2 separate regions of the Homo sapiens genome follow, and region 1 is linked to region 2. A link means that fine-mapping ties the variant in region 2 to the plasma level of a protein whose gene starts in the linked region. Region 2 holds a variant in brackets. A gene starts in the other region. All regions are shown on their forward strands.

The links. PIP is the chance, under the fine-mapping model, that this variant and not a neighbour inherited with it causes the effect. The UK Biobank Pharma Proteomics Project read protein levels with antibody pairs (Olink). The fine-mapping took linkage between variants from a reference panel, not from the people measured, so its PIPs are less certain.
Region 1: CCL25 starts here. The variant in region 2 is fine-mapped to the plasma level of the CCL25 protein (UK Biobank, PIP above 0.99).

The regions. Positions count from the first base shown.
Region 1 is chr19:8,047,531-8,055,830 of GRCh38, forward strand. It overlaps CCL25 (C-C motif chemokine ligand 25), which reads left to right and starts at 5,230. Exons shown (of 6, transcript NM_005624.4): 1 at 5,230-5,292; 2 at 5,470-5,592. The coding sequence starts at 5,520. RefSeq lists silencers at 2,783-2,872, 3,173-3,232.
Region 2 is chr8:42,241,678-42,250,005 of GRCh38, forward strand. It overlaps a transcript of IKBKB-DT not described here. Among named protein-coding and RNA genes, the nearest start is that of IKBKB-DT, 25 kb to the right of the region's middle. The variant A/G (reference allele first, on the strand shown) is at 4,183.

The sequences.
Region 1 (8,300 bases), not on the chromosome of region 2:
AAGGCAACGAACAGATCCAGGCAGATAATCAGTAAGGAAACATTGGATTTGAAATGCACTGTAGATCAAATGGAACTAATGACATATGTAGAACATTCCATTTGACAGCAGCGGAACGCACATTCTCCTCAAGTGCACAGGGGACATACTCCAGGATAGATCATGTTAGACCACAAAGCAAGCCTGAACAAATGTAAGATTGCCAGGTGCGGTGGCTCACACTTGTAATCCCAGCACTTTGGGAGGTCAAGGCGGGTGGATGACGAGGTCAGGAGATCGAGACCAGCCTGACCAACATGGTGAAACCCCGTCTCTACTAAAAATACAAAAAATTAGCCAGGTGTGGTGGTGGCGGGCGCCTGTAGTCCCAGCTACTTGGGAGGCTGAGGCAGGAGAATGGCGTGAACCCGGGAGGTGGAGCTTGCAGTGAGCCGAGATGGTGCCACTGCACTCCAGCCTGGGCAACAGAGTGAGACTCCGTCTCAACAACAACAACAAAAAAACAAATGTAAGATTGCGATTGTATCAAGTATCTTTTCTGACCACAGTGATACGAAACTAGAGATCAATAACAGGAGGAATTCTGGAAAATTCACACGTGAGAATTCAACAACACTCTCCTAAACAACCAATGTGTCAAAGAAGAAATTAAAACGAAATTAAAAAATATCTTGAGGCCAGGTGCAGTGGCTCACGCCTGTAATCCCAACACTTTGGTGGCTGAGGCAGGAGGATCACCTGAAGCCAGGAGTTCAAGACCAGCCTGGGCAACATAGTGAGACGCTCCCCCCATCTCTACAAAAAATAAAAATAATTAGCCAGGCATGGTGATGCTCACCTGTAGTCCCAGTTATTTGGGAGGCTAAGGTGGGAGGAACACTTGAGTTGGAGGCTGCAGTGAGCTACGATTGTGCCACTGCACTCAGCCTGGGTGATAGAGGGAGATGTTTCTAAAAACAAAATAAAACAAACAGAAACAACAACAACAAAAAACTTGAGACAAACTGAAATGGACATACAATATACCTAAACCAATGAATGCAGCAAAAGTGGTTCTAAGAGGGAAGTTTATAGCAATAAATAAATGCCTACATAAAAAAGAAGAAAGATCTTTCAAATAACCAAATTCTCTTTAAAAAGAGGTAACTGGAGGCTGGGCATGGTGGCTCAAGCCTGTAATCCCAGCACTTTGGGAGGCCAAGGCCAGCAGGTCACTTGAGGTCAGGAGTTCGAGACCAGCCTGGGCAACATAGTGAAATGTAGTCTCTCCTAAAAATACAAAAATTAGCCAGACATGGTGGTAGGCGCCTGTAGTCCCAGCTACTCGGGAGGCTGAGGCAGGAGAATCGCTTCAACCCGGGAGGTGGAGGTTGCAGTAAGCCAAGATCCTGCCACTGCACTCCAGCCTGGGCAACAGAGCAAGACTCTGTCTCGAAAAAAAAAAAAAAAAGAGGCAGCTGTGGGTACAACAGGAGTCCAGGCCTGGCAGACGGGGCTCCTGGGGTGTGGATTGCTCCCTACAAGACTCGTGACCATGCAGGGCAGTGGGGGCCCATCAGAAGCCAAGAGTCTCATCAGGGACCTGGAGGCACCAGAGTTCAGGAGAGCTGCAGGCAGCTGGGGTCTGATATGCAAAAGTGACTACAGGAGGACCCCCACTTCTGCCCATAGTGTTCTCCCAGTGCCCCTGAGCCTTTGCCGATGACCTCCCAGTCATCTGCTCTATGGCGCTTCCCCATTGGGGGACTGTCCTTTTCTTCACAGTATTTAAGAAATAAAAATTAGATTTTCCTGGCCAACAAAAAAAGTAAGTAACTTGGCTTCTCTGACCCTCAATCTCCTCCTTTGCACAGTTGGGCCAATGGTGAGCACCCAGGAGCATCCTTCATCCCACTAGAGGTGCCTGCCACTGGGTAGGGCAGATGTGGTGGTGGCTGGTGCAGGCTTCCCAGAACATCTCATCGCCCCTGCCCACCACCTGGCCACTGCAACCAACTGGGCTTGTCTAGAAAGACACCTGCCTACCCACCCAACCCTGCAGGCTCTGGGGTATTGGTCTCTGAATTTGGCTGAGCTACAGGATGGAGACCACCCTCAACTGCTCCCATCATCAGAGGTGCAGAACAGAAGTCGGTGTGGGGGGCACTTGTTCCCCCCAGCTGTGCTGATTTCACACTGGCGGAGAAGAGGACCCTTGCTGATAGCGGACTGCTCTTTTATTTTTTTATGAGATGGAGTTTTGCTCTTGTTGCCCAGGCTGGAGTGCAATGGCAAGATCTTGGCTCACTGCAACTTCCACTTCCTGGGTTCAAGCAATTCTCCTGCCTCAGCCTCCCAAGTAGCTGGGATTACAGGTGCGCACCACCATGCCCGGCTATTTTTTTTTTTTTTTTGTATTTTTAGTAGAGATGGGGTTTCACCATGTTGGCCAGGCTGATCTCGAACTCCTGACCTCAGGTGATCCGCCCGCCTCGGCCTCCCAAAGTGCTGGGATTACAAGTGTGAACCACTGCTCCCGGCCGATAGCGGATTACTCTTAATGCCCCCAGCTGCTGCAGGAGTGGAAGAGGCCAGTCCAGCCCCGACTGTGAAGGTCTGGCCTTTACTCAAAGCAACTGTGGTCCTCAGAACTCCGGGATCATCCCGTTTCTTGCTCCAACCCCTGGGTCCCAGGTCCCCAGCGCGCCCACCCCAGTGCTCCGTGCTTGCTGGTCCCTGGAGGGCCCCCTTACTGGGAACCCTTCCTCCCCGTGAAGGCTGCCGGCGGGACAAACAGTGAGGGGTGAGGCAGGGAGGGAGACTCACGTTGGGGACCTCCCCCAAGTCTGGGTAACACCGTCTTGGCCGCGGCCCGCGGGTTGGGAAGGTAGGGGGCAGTGAGCCGTAGCGGAGAGGCTGGCCCCAGCCCGCCACGCCGCTTCCCCACGCTCGCAGCCACGCGGAGCCGCGTCCTGGTCCAGCCTCACCCACCCAGAGCAAGAGGCGGAGGAACTGGAACAGCGCCCCGGCCCGTGGGCTGCCACTGGCCGCAGCAACGGGACGGGTGAGAGCACCTGCCCCCGACGCGTCTTAACTGCTCTGGTGGGGCGGGGCTGACCGTGCAAGCCCCGCCCCAGTCTAAGCCCCTCCTACAAAGCCCGGCCCCTTACCATAAGCGCCATCTGTCAGGCTCCGCCCACTGTCTTAAATCCCACTCACTCTGCCCTGCCCCTGACTCGGAGCCATATAGCAAGCCCCGCCCATAGCCATAAGCCACGCCCACCCAGCCCTGCCCCTGGGCTCTAAGTGTCATTTATCTAGTCACGTCCCCGGCTAGAAGCCACACCCACCAGGCCCGGCCCCACCTCTAAGCCCCACTCACCCGGCCATGTGGTTTGGGACAGGGAAGTAGGCTAGGGGCCGCCGCCTCTGGGCTCCCAGTGGAAGGGGAGAAATGAGAAAGGAGTTTAGGATGTGATAAATACCCACAGAGGTCAGATGTAGCTATGGATGCAGGCGATAAAAAGTTTAAAGCAATCAGCTGTGCGGCCTCTGCAGCGCTCCTTTCGCCCTCCCTAATCTTCACCTCGTGTCTCCCCCAGTCCCTGTGTCCTGGCTGGGTCCTGCTGCCCCAGGGAAAGAAGACATGCCTTCTCCCATCCTGGCTAACATGGTGAAACCCCGTCTCTACTAAAAATACAAAAAATTAGCCAGGCGTGGTGGCGGGAGCCTGTAGTCCCAGCTACTCGGGAGGCTGAGGCAGGAGAATGGCGTGAACCCGGGAGACGGAGCTTGCAGTGAGCCGAGACAGCGCCACCGCACTCCAGCCTGGGCAAAAGAGCAAGACTCCGTCTCAGAAGAAAAAAAAAAAAGACATGCCTTCTCGGTGAATGTTGCTTTGCTTCCTGAGGGCATGGCTACCCGGGGCTCCTGGCTTTTCTTCCAAAAACAAAACATTTCTTCCATTTTTTCTTTTTCTTTTGTTTTTTTTTTTTTTTTTTTTTTTGAGACAGAGTTTCACTCTTGTCGCCCAGGCTGGAATGCAGTGGCCCAATCTCGGCTCACTGCAACCTCCGCCTCCCGGGTTCAAGCGATTCTCCTGCCTCAGCCTCCTGAGTAGCTGGAATTACAGGTGCCCCCCCACCACACTCGGCTAATTTTTGTAATTTTAGTAGAGATGGGGTTTTGCCATGTTGGCCAGGCTGGTCTCGAACTCCTGACCTCAGAGGATCCGCCTGCCTCGGCCTCCCAAAGTGCTGGTATTACAGGTGTGAGCCACTGTGTCCGGCCACCGTTTTTTTTTCCATTTTTTGAGACAGGGTCTTGCTCTGTTGCCCAGGCTGGAGTGCAGTGGCATGATCACAGCTCACTGCAGCCTCAACCTCCAAGGCTCAAGCAATCCTCACACCTCAGCCTCCTGAGTGGCTGGGACTACAGGTATGCACTACTACGTCAGGCTAATTTTTTAAAAAATTTTTGTAGTGACGCAGGTCTCTCTATATTGCCCGGGGTGGTCTTGAGCTCCTGGGCTCAAGCAATCCTCTGGCCTCGGCCTCCCAAAGTGTTGGGCTTACAGACATGAGCCACCATGCCTGGCCTAGAGAGTTTCTTTCTTGTTGGGGTTGTTCACCGGTGGGAGGTGCACCATTGTGCCGTGCTGACTATATTCATAGAGTTATGTAACCATCACTCTCATCTAATTTCAGAACAAAAGGAAACCCATACCCTCTCACAGTCAGTCCTTCATTCTCCCCTCCCCCCATCCTGTGGCCACCGCTAATTTACTTTCTGTTTCTATGGATTTGCCTGTGATCACAACCAGAGGATTTCTGTGACATGCTAAGTTACCTAACCATGGTGTGGAAGGAGAGGGAAATGGAGTGAAGTTGGGGACCCACCAGGGAACAGGTGGCTTGAGGGCGGGGGGAGCATGAAGGTAAGGGCTTGTTTGGGGGCTCAAGGCAGTCTGAGCCTTGTTCGCAGGCAGCCAGTGTCCACCAGGTGTGTGCAGGTGAGGGAAACAGGGGAAAAGGCCCTTTCTGGAGACAGTAGGGGTGCTGGCTGGGAGGCCTGGGATGGGGAGTGGGGAGGCAAGGGGGCCTGTGGGTCGAGGTTGGAGCTTGCTGTAGAAGAGGGAGAATTCCAGAGGCTGAGAGTGCAGGTGGAGAGGAGGAGGAAGGGAGGAGGGCGGGCAGGGGGTGGCTGGGTGGGGCTCTGTCTATAAAGAGTGAAGCTCAGCGTGTTGGTCCTGCAGATGGGACAGCTTGGCCTACAGCCCGGCGGGCATCAGCTCCCTTGACCCAGTGGATATCGGTGAGTCTTTTCCTTGAACATGACTGAGATGAACAGCTTTTCCCTCCAGCACAACTTGTTCCTACTTTATACAACCTCCTTCCCTTGCCATATGCCTGGGGCTTAAGAGGGGGGATGTTCCCAGTACCCACTCCCCTCCTCTTCCTCAGTCCTTACCACTTCCCTCCACGACCCCAGGTGGCCCCGTTATTCGTCCAGGTGCCCAGGGAGGAGGACCCGCCTGCAGCATGAACCTGTGGCTCCTGGCCTGCCTGGTGGCCGGCTTCCTGGGAGCCTGGGCCCCCGCTGTCCACACCCAAGGTACTGTGTTCGGCAATGCCTACCACCAAGTGCCCCTCTCCCCATGCCCCCACCCCACCCCTTTTGTCTCTTATCTCCTCCGGAAGTCTCCCCAATCCCATCTCCACTGAATTCTCCCGCTCCTGACATGCAGGAACTCCTGGTGTTTGGTTAGCTCTTGGGATGGGGTCGGGGAGATGGAGAGTCCCCAGTTCCTTCTTCGAGAGCCCCATGGAGTCTTTTGCAAGACTCCTAAAGATGTGAGGGAGCAGAGGGTGGCTTCCAGCTGTGGGCAAAGCCAGTTACTGCCAGGGATGTATTGTAGAATCCTAATCCTGCCGAGCCAGGGGTGGGGTTGGAGATCAGGGCCCTGGAGACTGACAAGAGTGGATTCCCATCCTGGTCCCTCCATGCAGTCCAGCTGAGAGTTAGTTGCTCCTAAACCATTTTTTTTTTTTTTTTTTTGAGACAGAGTCTCACTCTGTCACCCTGGCTGGAGTGCAGTGGCGCGATCTTGGCTCACTGCAACCTCCGCCTCCTGGGCTCAAGCGATCCTTCTGCCTCAGCCTCCCAAGTAGCTGGGACTACAGGCGTGTGTACCATGCCCGGCTAATTTTTGTATTTTTTAGTAGAGATGGGGTTTCACTATGTTGGCCAGAGTAGTCTCGATCTCCTGATCTCAGGCGATCCGCCTGCCTCAGCCTCCCAAAGTGCTAGGATTACAGGTTTGAGCCACTGTGCCCGGCTTCCTAAACCTTTAGGAGCCTCCGTTTCCTCAGCTGCAAAGTGGGAATCTAAAATTCCCACTGCATGGCTCTGACTTGAGGGTCCAGTGAGCTCATGCCTGCAAAAGACTAGGCCTCATGTCTGGCGGCGGCAATAGTAACTGTTCCTGTTATTAATAGGGAACTCTTTCCTTCTTCCCCACTCCCTACCGCAGAGCAAGCACTTGAGGATTTCAGTCGCCAAAGGACAATTCCTGGGCCTGGGGTGTCCCCACGGGAGCCCTGACACTGGGTCCTACATCCTCTGAGTTTCAGCAGCTGGCCAAAGCAGGGTCCCTGGCTGGGCGGCAGACCCAGGGTCCCACCCTCCTTCCCTGTCTGCCCCCACCTGACCCACCTGCCCCTCGGCTGGGTCTGATGGGTCCAAGTCCTTGGCCTTTGCCTGGGAAGGGGGTTGGGCTGTGGTCTGATTGTTTTGCTATCAGAGCCAGGCCCAGCCCAGCCCTTCGATCCTGGCCTCCAGCCTTGGGAACTACCTGCCTGGCACTGCAGTCCGAGGTTCCAACAGAATGCGCTGCCCCTTGCCCTCAGAGGCCGCGGTTGGGAGACACCTGGAGGGCTCGAGTCCTCCCTTTCCCTGCTCCTGCTGGGCTGGGCTCTGCAGGGACTCAGACTCGGCCTCTGGAGGTTAGTTCTGGCAGAGGTGAGATTGCAGAGAACTCCAAAGGCCATTTAGGCAGAGAATTGCACCCCAGCTTCCTCCACTATCTCATCAGCTCATCCTCGGCTCATTCATTCCACCTGCTCATCCCCCCAGAACTTTCTGGCATCACCTCCTCCTCCTCTGGGCACCCCCCACAGTGCCTGTGCTTCCCCCTTTCTGCAGAGATCAGTTTCCCGGGAGCTCCCTGAAGACAACACTAGGTCTAATTCATCTGTGTGTTTCATCTCTGCTTGTCTAGACATTGACATTTACTGAGAGCTCTTTACTTTGTATTAAAACAATTTTTTGTTTGTTTGGTTGGTGTTTTGTTTTGTTTCATTGAGACAGAGTTTTGCTATTGTCGCCCAGGCTGGAGTGCAATGGCGTGATCTCGGCTCACTGCAACCTCCACCTCCTGGGTTCAAGTGATTCTCCTGCCTCAGCCTCCAGAGTAGCTGGGATTAAAAGCGCCCACTATCAGCCAGGCACAGTGGCTCACGCCTGTAATCCCAGCACTTTGAGAGGCCAAGGCGGGTGGATCACAAGGTCAAGAGATCAAGACCATCCTGGCCAACATGGTGAAACCCCGTCTCTACTAAAAATACAAAAATTAGCTGGTCGTGGTGGCGGGCGCCTGTAATCCCAGCTACTCGGGAGGCTGAGGCAGGAGAATCGCTTGAACCCGGGAGGCAGAGGTTGCAGTGAGCTGAAATTGAGCCACTGCACTCCAGCCTGGGTGACAGAGTGAGACTCTGGAAAAAAAAAAAAAAAAGGCGCCCACCACCATGCCTGGCTAATTTTTGTTTTTTGTTTTGTTTTGTTTTGAGACGGTGTCTCACTCTGTCGCCCAGGCTGGAGTGCAGTGGCGCGATCTCGGCTCACTGCAAGCTCTGCCTCCCGGGTTCACGCCATTCTCCTGCCTCAGCCTCCCGAGTAGCTGGGACTCCAGGCGCCCACCACCACACCCGGCTAATTTTTATATTTTTAGTAGAGACGGGGTTTCACCGTGTTAGCCAGGATGGTCTCAATCTCCTGACCTCGTGATCCGCCCACCTTGGCCTCCCAAAGTGCTGGGATTAAAGGCATGAGCCACCGCGCCCGGCCTAATTTTTATATTTTTTAGTAGAGACGGGGTTTCACCATATTGGCCAGGCTAGTCTCAAACTCCTGACCTCAGGTGATCCACCCACCTCAGCCTCCCAAAGTGCTGGGTTTACAGGCATGAGCCACTGTGCTGAGCTGCCAATCAGCTCATTTTTAGGAGGGAAGAACTTGGCTGGGGAGGGGTGGTGTTGGCCCCT
Region 2 (8,328 bases):
CTACTGGAAACAAATGAAAAAATAGAAAGCTTCAACCCTTTGTGGTAGAATAGAGTGGAATTGATAGGGACATATCAGCCCACCTGCTTATAAGTAGCAGTGGTAAAAGTCATGTTAATGCTGGCAGGAGAACACAAAGAGAATGGGTAGAACTGGTTAGTATGGAACTCAAGCTTCAGTTAGATGGTCGAACTAATATTAGAGGAGAGAGGTCAGTTAATATGAAAAAGGGTACCCATTTAAAGTAAGCAGATGGCCTGGCGTGGTGGCTCACACCTGTAATCCCAACAGTTTGGGAGGCCGAAGCGGGCGGATCACCTTGAGGTCAGGAGTTTGAAGCTGGCCTGGCCAACATGGTGAAACCCCATCTCTACTAAAAATACAAAATTTATCTGGGCATGTTGGTGCGCGCCTGTAATCTCAGCTACTCAGGAGGCTGAGGCAGGAGAATTGCTTGAACCCAGAAGGCAGAGGTTGCAGTGAGCTGAGATTGCACCACTGCACTCCAGCCTGGGTGACAAAGCAAGACTCCATCTCAAAAATAAATAAATAAATAAATATTTAAAAATAGACATAAGTAAATAAATAAATACAGTAAGCAGATTATAGCATCATCCCTGTGGTTGGGATAAAGATTCCTAGCATTGAAAAATGGATTTTGAATAGAACTAATATCGTGGGGTTTAGATGCTGTTATTAGCAGAGCTCACCTTATAGCAGTATTTTACACTAAAAATAATAAGGAAATTAGAGATATTAAGGTGGATGTTGTCAAGTGGATGTATCAAGGAAGTAGGGTCTCTATAACCCATAATTAAGGTATAATGAGAATTCTATATATGTGGTTGGTATATTAATTGTAGCTGAGTTCTGTAGAGAGTGGGGAGTGTACTGGTCCATGCTATCTTCTGCCACCCTGTACAGCAACGTCCTCCATTTGGCCTGGTCGCTAGTCATTGACCTCACTTGCTGCAGCATCTGCGGCTGATGCCTACAGTCCTTCCCCGGCCTCTGGCTTGTATAGCCAGGGCCACCTCTGCCAAGTGTCCCCTCATGCATGCTGAGAAGTCACTGCTGGTGCTCTGAGCCTCCCCCAGTCCCTTCTGATGCTCTACAGGGAGCTGAGGGACACTGGCTCTGGCCATACCCAGTGCGATTTCCACATGATGGCTGCAGGACCGGACTTTGTAGTAATGAGCAGGCCACTCAACGAAGGCCCAGATCATAACCAAAATGCAGGGTCTGTCAGTTGCTACTTGCAGAATCCAATTCACAAGCGCGAGTTCTGGTATAAAGTGGCTTTTATTCCAAAGCCAGCTTAGGGGAAGAAGCATAGGCTTCCTGGCTTAAGGGTACGGCTTTGCTCTCGGAGTAGAAAGTGGGCACTTTTAAAAGGCAGGGGAGGAGGTGAGCAGGTTGGGGGTGGTCCTCGTGCCAGCTTAGTGTCTTACCTACTGGGCGGTTGGACTGGCATTTTCATGGCAGAAATGGGTTGTAAAAGTGGCCTAAAACTCTCCAGGTGGGGAGAGAGTTTTGTAGTGGGACTTTGGATTGTAAATTGACTGTTATCTCTCCATGCAGCCTCCTGGTGGGTGAGCGTTCTGCTCTGGAGCATCTAAGCACAGAGTTAGATGAATTTGTAAGAAATATCTGATGAAGAGGAGGTAATAGACTATTATTGCATTTCTAAAGAGCTAAAGTAAGAAGTGGGGAAAAGGAGGAAAAAGAAGAAAGAGAAAAAAATAATTAAACTATTTCTTAGAAAAATTGGGGTACTTGGTTACAGATCTGTGTTCTCAGAACCCCAGAACATCTCTGGAGGTTTTATGTCCCACCACTTCCCTGAGTTTTGGTTAGGATTAATCATAATCTCAACTATTAATTGACATCATGGACAGTAGAAGAATAACTAGTGTAACTTCACGTGAAATTTTTGGTGCTACTGCTTATAGCACTCCATAAAGCCACTTCGGTTTGAAGTTTGGTCAGATGGTAGAATTGAGTTTAATTTAGACGGACAGTACTCACAGGAACCCAGTTTGTAACCGGTAGTGAGTAAGGTCATGTTGTTCAGAACATTAAAATAAGGATAAACAGTTCTGGATTCTGGGTTAATCATTTTAAGAGTCTATGTATTTGGATAAGTTCATTTATTGGGTCGCACAATATTTGAGGTTTTGCAATTGCACATGGTCTAGAATTTTGTTCATACTGGAAAAATTAGAATATAGGTAGAAACTGGCTGAACTCAGATGATGTAGGATCACCTAAGCAGATGTGGATTAATCTACTGCTGCCCCATTAGGGAATTCTAATCTAACTCCAAGCCTGTATGCCCGATTGTCTATACAAACTGCAAAACAAGTTCCTATTATCCTTGGGATAACTGTTTCTGGAAACTAAGCTTTGGTTCCCTCAATTATATTTATGAAAATGTTTCACAAAATGTATTCCTTATTTTATTTGGAAGTTTTGCCATGCTTTGAGGTCATCCACCCAAAATGAGGAAACCCAGGCCCATGTGTTTGTCACATGGATCAGGTAATTTTATTTGAATGGATTAATTATTTTTAAATCTTCAGAGTCTTCCAGTCTTACTTGACACAGGGTAGTCAGTTATCCTATTTGGGAGAAGAAGATCTTGGAACAGAGCCCATTCCGTTTCCCCTTTAGAAAATAAGGGAGGGGGCTTCCCGGGCAGTTCCAGCACTGTGTCATTGGTGGAGATGGTTAACAGACAGACACATACGGAGCTATTGGTTATATTTTGGGTAAACAGACCTGATTTAAGTATGCCACATTCCTTTTACTTCTTTTAATCTTCCTTAAGGTATTCCTGTGCTGATTAATAATAATTTGAAAAAGCAATTGAATTTTTTTTTAATTTTTAGAGATGGGATCTTGCTCTATCACCAAGGCTGGAGTGCAGTGGTGCTCACTGCAGCCTTGACCTCCTGGGCCTAAGTGATCCTTCTGATTCAGCCTCCCAATTAGAGTTTCATTTTATATGTGAAATTGTTAGTTATAAATGGATTAGCTACATTGGGCTGCCGCCTATAATTGGGTCAGGGTTTGGAAAGACCCAATGTCCAAACTGACCACACACAAAAGTGCTATTTCCTATGCCCTACCAGGCTGAACTGCACTTCAGTGCTAGCTCTGTGCTCTAGTTTATAACCTATGGAAAAAGCTCTTCTGTGGCATTTGAGAGACTAGTCTGAGAGCATGTAGTTGCCAAATGATTTACTTTCCAAGGGCTTTTGGGCCCTTTCTTTAGAAATTCTAGTTTGGGCCGGGCGTGGTGGTTTACACCTGTAATCCCAGCACTTTGGGAGGCCAAGGCAGGAGGATCACGAGGTCAGGAGATTGAGACCATCCTGGTCAACATGGTGAAACCCCGTCTCTACTAAAATACAAAAAAAAAAAAATTAGCCAGGCGTGGTGGCACGTGCCTGCAGTCCCAGCTACTCAGGAGGCTGAGGCAGGGGAATCGCTTGAACCCAGGAGGTGGAGGTTGCAGTTAGCTGAGATCGCACCACTGCACTCCAACCTGGCGACAGAGCAAGACTCCATCTCAAAAATAAAATTTAAAAAATAATAATAATAAAAGAAATTCTAGTTTGATGATTCTTTACGTGTTGGGAATACCTCACCCCCATGTCTCCAATGACACCATGAGTTTACAACTTCTGGTGTGATGGAAGCAGAAAATGGGTCAGGACGCCTCAGTCCCTCAGTTCTGCAAACTGATTGTGTTCACAAAGGCTGATTGACAGGCCCCAGGCCATCTGCCAGCAGCTCCCAGGGAGCCACACAGAAATGTGTTGGAGAAGCCTTTGAGCGGTGGAGAATCACACAGCCAGGCAGAGTAACGCAGGTTCTGTCTGAACACACTTGGCATGCATTTGACAGCAAGATAAAGGAAGAGTGAAATCCTGTCTCGAGGGGCTCATTGTTTCATCGTTCTGTAATCATTATAGAATCAAGTACTCTAAAGCTCAGAAAGGAAAGACAGCCCTTAGTTTACAAGACCTGAGAGCCCTTACCCGGAAAATGTACTGAAAAGATAAACATTTTGGAAAGCAGTTGGGCAAGAACTATTACAATATTTATATCTGCTTACTTTCTGAAGCAGCCATTTCACCTCCAGGAACTTCTCTGAAACTCTTGACATATAAAAGG[A/G]TGTTTACTGCAGATACACGTAAAAGGATGTTTATTGCAGCATTTTACAGTAGCCAAAATTGGAAACAATCATAAACAGGGAAGTGGTTAATTAAGAAGTGATACATCAATCCAATGGAATATGATCCTGCTGTTAAAAAGAATAAGATCTGATGCAGAGATATTTTCTTTTATGCTTGTTTTGTTTTTTGTTTCGAGACAGGATCTTGCTCTGTCACCCAGGCTAGAGCGCAGTGGCACAGTCACAGCTCACTGCAGCGTCAACCTCCCAGGCTCAGGCAATCCTCCCGCCTCAACCTCCTGAGCAGCTGGGACTGCAGGGGCATGCCACCATGCCGGGCTAATTTTTGTAGAGTCAGGGTCTCACTATGTTGTCCAGGGTGGTCTCAAACTCCTGAGCTCAAGCGATCCACCCCACTTGGCCTCCCAAAATGTTGGAATTACAGGTGTAAGCCACAGTGCCCAGCCCAGATATAGTTTCAAGATATAGTACTAAGTAAAAAAAAATTGCAGAAAAGTTTATCTCTGTGAGTGACTTTGTCAGAGTTTCACTTTCTATAATATGTTTCTCTATTGCTCTGGTTCCCTTCTCCCCAAAATACATTGTTTTGCACTTTAAAAATATCAAAATGGGAAAGATATGTGTAATAAAACTTATATGTCAGGATCCAGTGAGATGTAGCAGGCCCCTAGCACAGTCAGGCATCAAGTGATGCTCACTAAATCTTAGCTCTACGATATCAGTAAACATCTATGTGCAATGGATACCTTCTTGATCTTGTTGCATAAAACTGCAGAATCTCAGAGAGAAGGGTTAGGAGAAAACAGCTTCTTAAGCAGCTTTTCTACCCTTTGACTATCCCTACATGGCAATTTCAAGTTTTCTAAGGAAGTTGGGACTGGTTTCTTATAGCAGCAGTCCCTAAACTTTTCGGCACCAGGGACCGGTTTCGTGGGAGACAATTTTTCCACGGACCTGGGGTTGGGGTGGGAGTGAGGGGGAATGGTTTTGGGATGAAATTGTTCCACCTCAGATCATCAGGCATTAGTTAGATTATCATAGGGAGCAGACAACCTAGATCCCTCACATGCATAGTTCACAACAGGGTTCCTGCTCCTAGGAGAATCTGAGGCCGCCACTGATCTGACAGGAAGCGGAGCTCAGGCAGCCTAGTGAAGCTATGAGAAGACGGCCACCATCCTTCAGACCCCAAAATGGTAGATCCACCGACAGCTTGCATCGTGTGCCTGTAAAAGCCACAGACAACGCCACAAACACTCAATGCCTGCTTGTGAAAGCAGCTGGCAGTCGGAGGGGGTGGGCTGTACCCTGCAAAGCCACAGGGGTGGAGCTGCCCAAGGCCATGCATCAGCGTGTTTTGGATGTGAGACATGGAGTCAAAGAAGATTATTTTGGAGCTTTAAGATTTAATGACTGCCCTGCTGGATTTCGGACTTGCATAGGACCAGTGGCCCCTTGGTTTTGGCCAATTTCTCCTATTTGGAATGGGAGCATTTGCCCAATGCCTGTACCTCATTGTATCTAGGAAGTAACTAACTTGCTTTTGATTTTACTGGCTCATAGGCAGAAGGGACTTGCCTAATCTCAGATGAGACTTTGGACTGAAACTTTTGGGTTAATACTGGAATGAATTAAGACTCTGAGGGAAGACATGATTGGTTTTGAAACGTGAAAGGGCCATGAGATTTGGGAGGGGCCGGAGCAGAATGATATGGTTAGGCTTTGTGTACCCACCCAAATCTCATCTTGAATTGTAATCCTCAGGTGTTGAGGGAGAGACCTGGTGGGAGGTGATTGGATCATGGGGGCAGTTTCCTCATGCTGTTCCCATGATAGTGAGGGAGTTCTCGTGAGATCTGATTGTTTTATAAGTGACAATTTCCTCTGGGCTTTTCTCTATCTTTCCTGCTGCCTTGTGAAGAAAGTGCCTGCGCTGGGTGCAGTGGCTCACACCTATAATCTCAGCACTTTGGGAGGCTAAGGCGGGTGGATCACAAGGTCAGGAGCTCAGGACCAGCCTGGCCAACATGGTGAAACCCTGTCTCTACTAAAAATACAAAAATTAACTGGGCACAGTAGTGGGCGCCTCTAATCCCAGCTACTCAGGAGGCTGAGGCAGAAGAATTGCTTGAACCTGGGAGGCGGAGGTTGTAGTGAGCTGAGATCTCACCGCTACACTCCAGCCTGGGCGACAGAGCAAGACTCCGTCTCGGAAAAAAAAAAAAAAAGAAAGTGTCTTCTTCTCCTTCCACCAGTAAGTTTCCCGAGGCCTCCCCAGCTATGTGGAACTGTGAATCAATTAAACCTCCTTCATTTACAAATTACTATCTCAGGTATATCTCACACTTTATAGCAGTGTGAAAACGGACTAATATAGGTGGTAATGCTCGCTTGCCCACCACTCACCTCCTGGTGTACAGCCTGATTCCTAACAGGCCACAGACCGGGACCTGTCTTCGGCTCTTGGTTTGGAGACCCCTGTCTTAGAGTATTGATACTACCATTTGTTGTTCTGGCCATTTTTGCCAAGCAGCTGTACAGTGCATATCAATTGCTGGTGATGTAGAAAGGTAGATGTTTTCCAGGAAGCATTGATCTTTACCTTAGAGCCCAATGTTACTGCTCTTTTTACAGAGAGTTTTGATTTTCACAAACATTTTCCATAATGCAATTTGACTTTAATTGGGTGGGTATGCCTTTTTTTAAGAGACCCAAATAGCCGGCTGCAGTGGCTCATGTCTGTAATCCCAGCACTTTGGGAGGCCAAGGCAGGCGGATCATGAGGTCAGGAGTTCGAGGCCAGCCTGGCCAACATGGTGAAACCCTGTCTCTACTGAAAATACAAAAAGTGGCCAGGTGTGGTGACAGGCACCTGTAGTCCCAGCCATTTGGGAGGCTGAAGCAGAAATCAATTGAACCCAGGAGGCGGAGGTTACAGTGAGCTGAGATCGTGCCCCTGTACTCCAGCCTGGCAACAGAGGCTCTACCAAAAAAAAAAAAAAAAACAAATATCCCCTCCAAATTTGCATCACAAAACAGATAAACAAAGGTGTAAATTTTACTATTGCAAAAGGACTCTGCTTCACTGGAAGTTCTTTCAAGCATTCTTTTACACTGGTTCATTTGAAAAGGGATTCACTTTATAAAAATTTGACAATACAACTTTTATTAAACATTTCTTTCACAGAACGAGATTTTTTTATTGGGCCGGGTGCAGTAGCTCACACCTGCAATCCCAGCACTTTGGGAAACCAAGACAGGAGGATCACTTGAGCCCAGGAGTTTGAGACCAGCCTGAGCAATACAGGGGACCCCATCTCTACAAAAAAACTGAAAAATTGGCCAGGTATGATGGCACGTGCCTGTGGTCCCAGTTTCTTGAGAGGCCGAGGTGGGAGGGTTGCATGAGCCTGGGAGGTCAAGGCTGCAGTCCGCTGTGTTTGTGCCACTGCACTCCAGCCTGGGCGACAGAGCAGGCCCCTGTTTCAAAAAAAAAGACAAAATATCCCTATAATTTATATATGCATGTATATATATGTGTGTGTGTGTGTGTGTGTGTGTGTACATATATATATATGTTTTTTTATTAACTGGGACTAAGACTAACAAGACCAATAAACTACAAGACTTTTGATTCTACCAGGGGAAACCTGATGGACTTTCTGAGTCTTAGGATGACATGAGAACCTACAAAGCTCTACTAGAAGGCCATGCATTCAAAAAGGCCCTGGAGAGAAATGCAGAGGCTAGTGCAGATCTCAGGGTTGCACTTAACATCCCTGTGGCCAGGGACAAGTTGCTTCACCGCTGTTCCATTTCCTCATTTGCAATCATGGAAGAAGGATTTTACTCACTGAATTATTTTGAGGATTAAAGAAAACATGTATTATTCTCCAGATGTTAAGACATTATGGGATGGGCACGGTAGCTCACACCTGTCATCCTGGCACTTTGGGAGGTGGAGGTAGGAGGATCACTTGAGCTCAGGAGTTCGAGACCAGCTTGAGCAACACAGTGAAACCTCGTCTTCACTAAAAATAAAAAAAAAAAATTCAGCTGGGTGTGGTGGTGTAACTGCCCAGTGAATTCTTGTCCACTGCCCAGATAGAGCCAATTTATCAAGG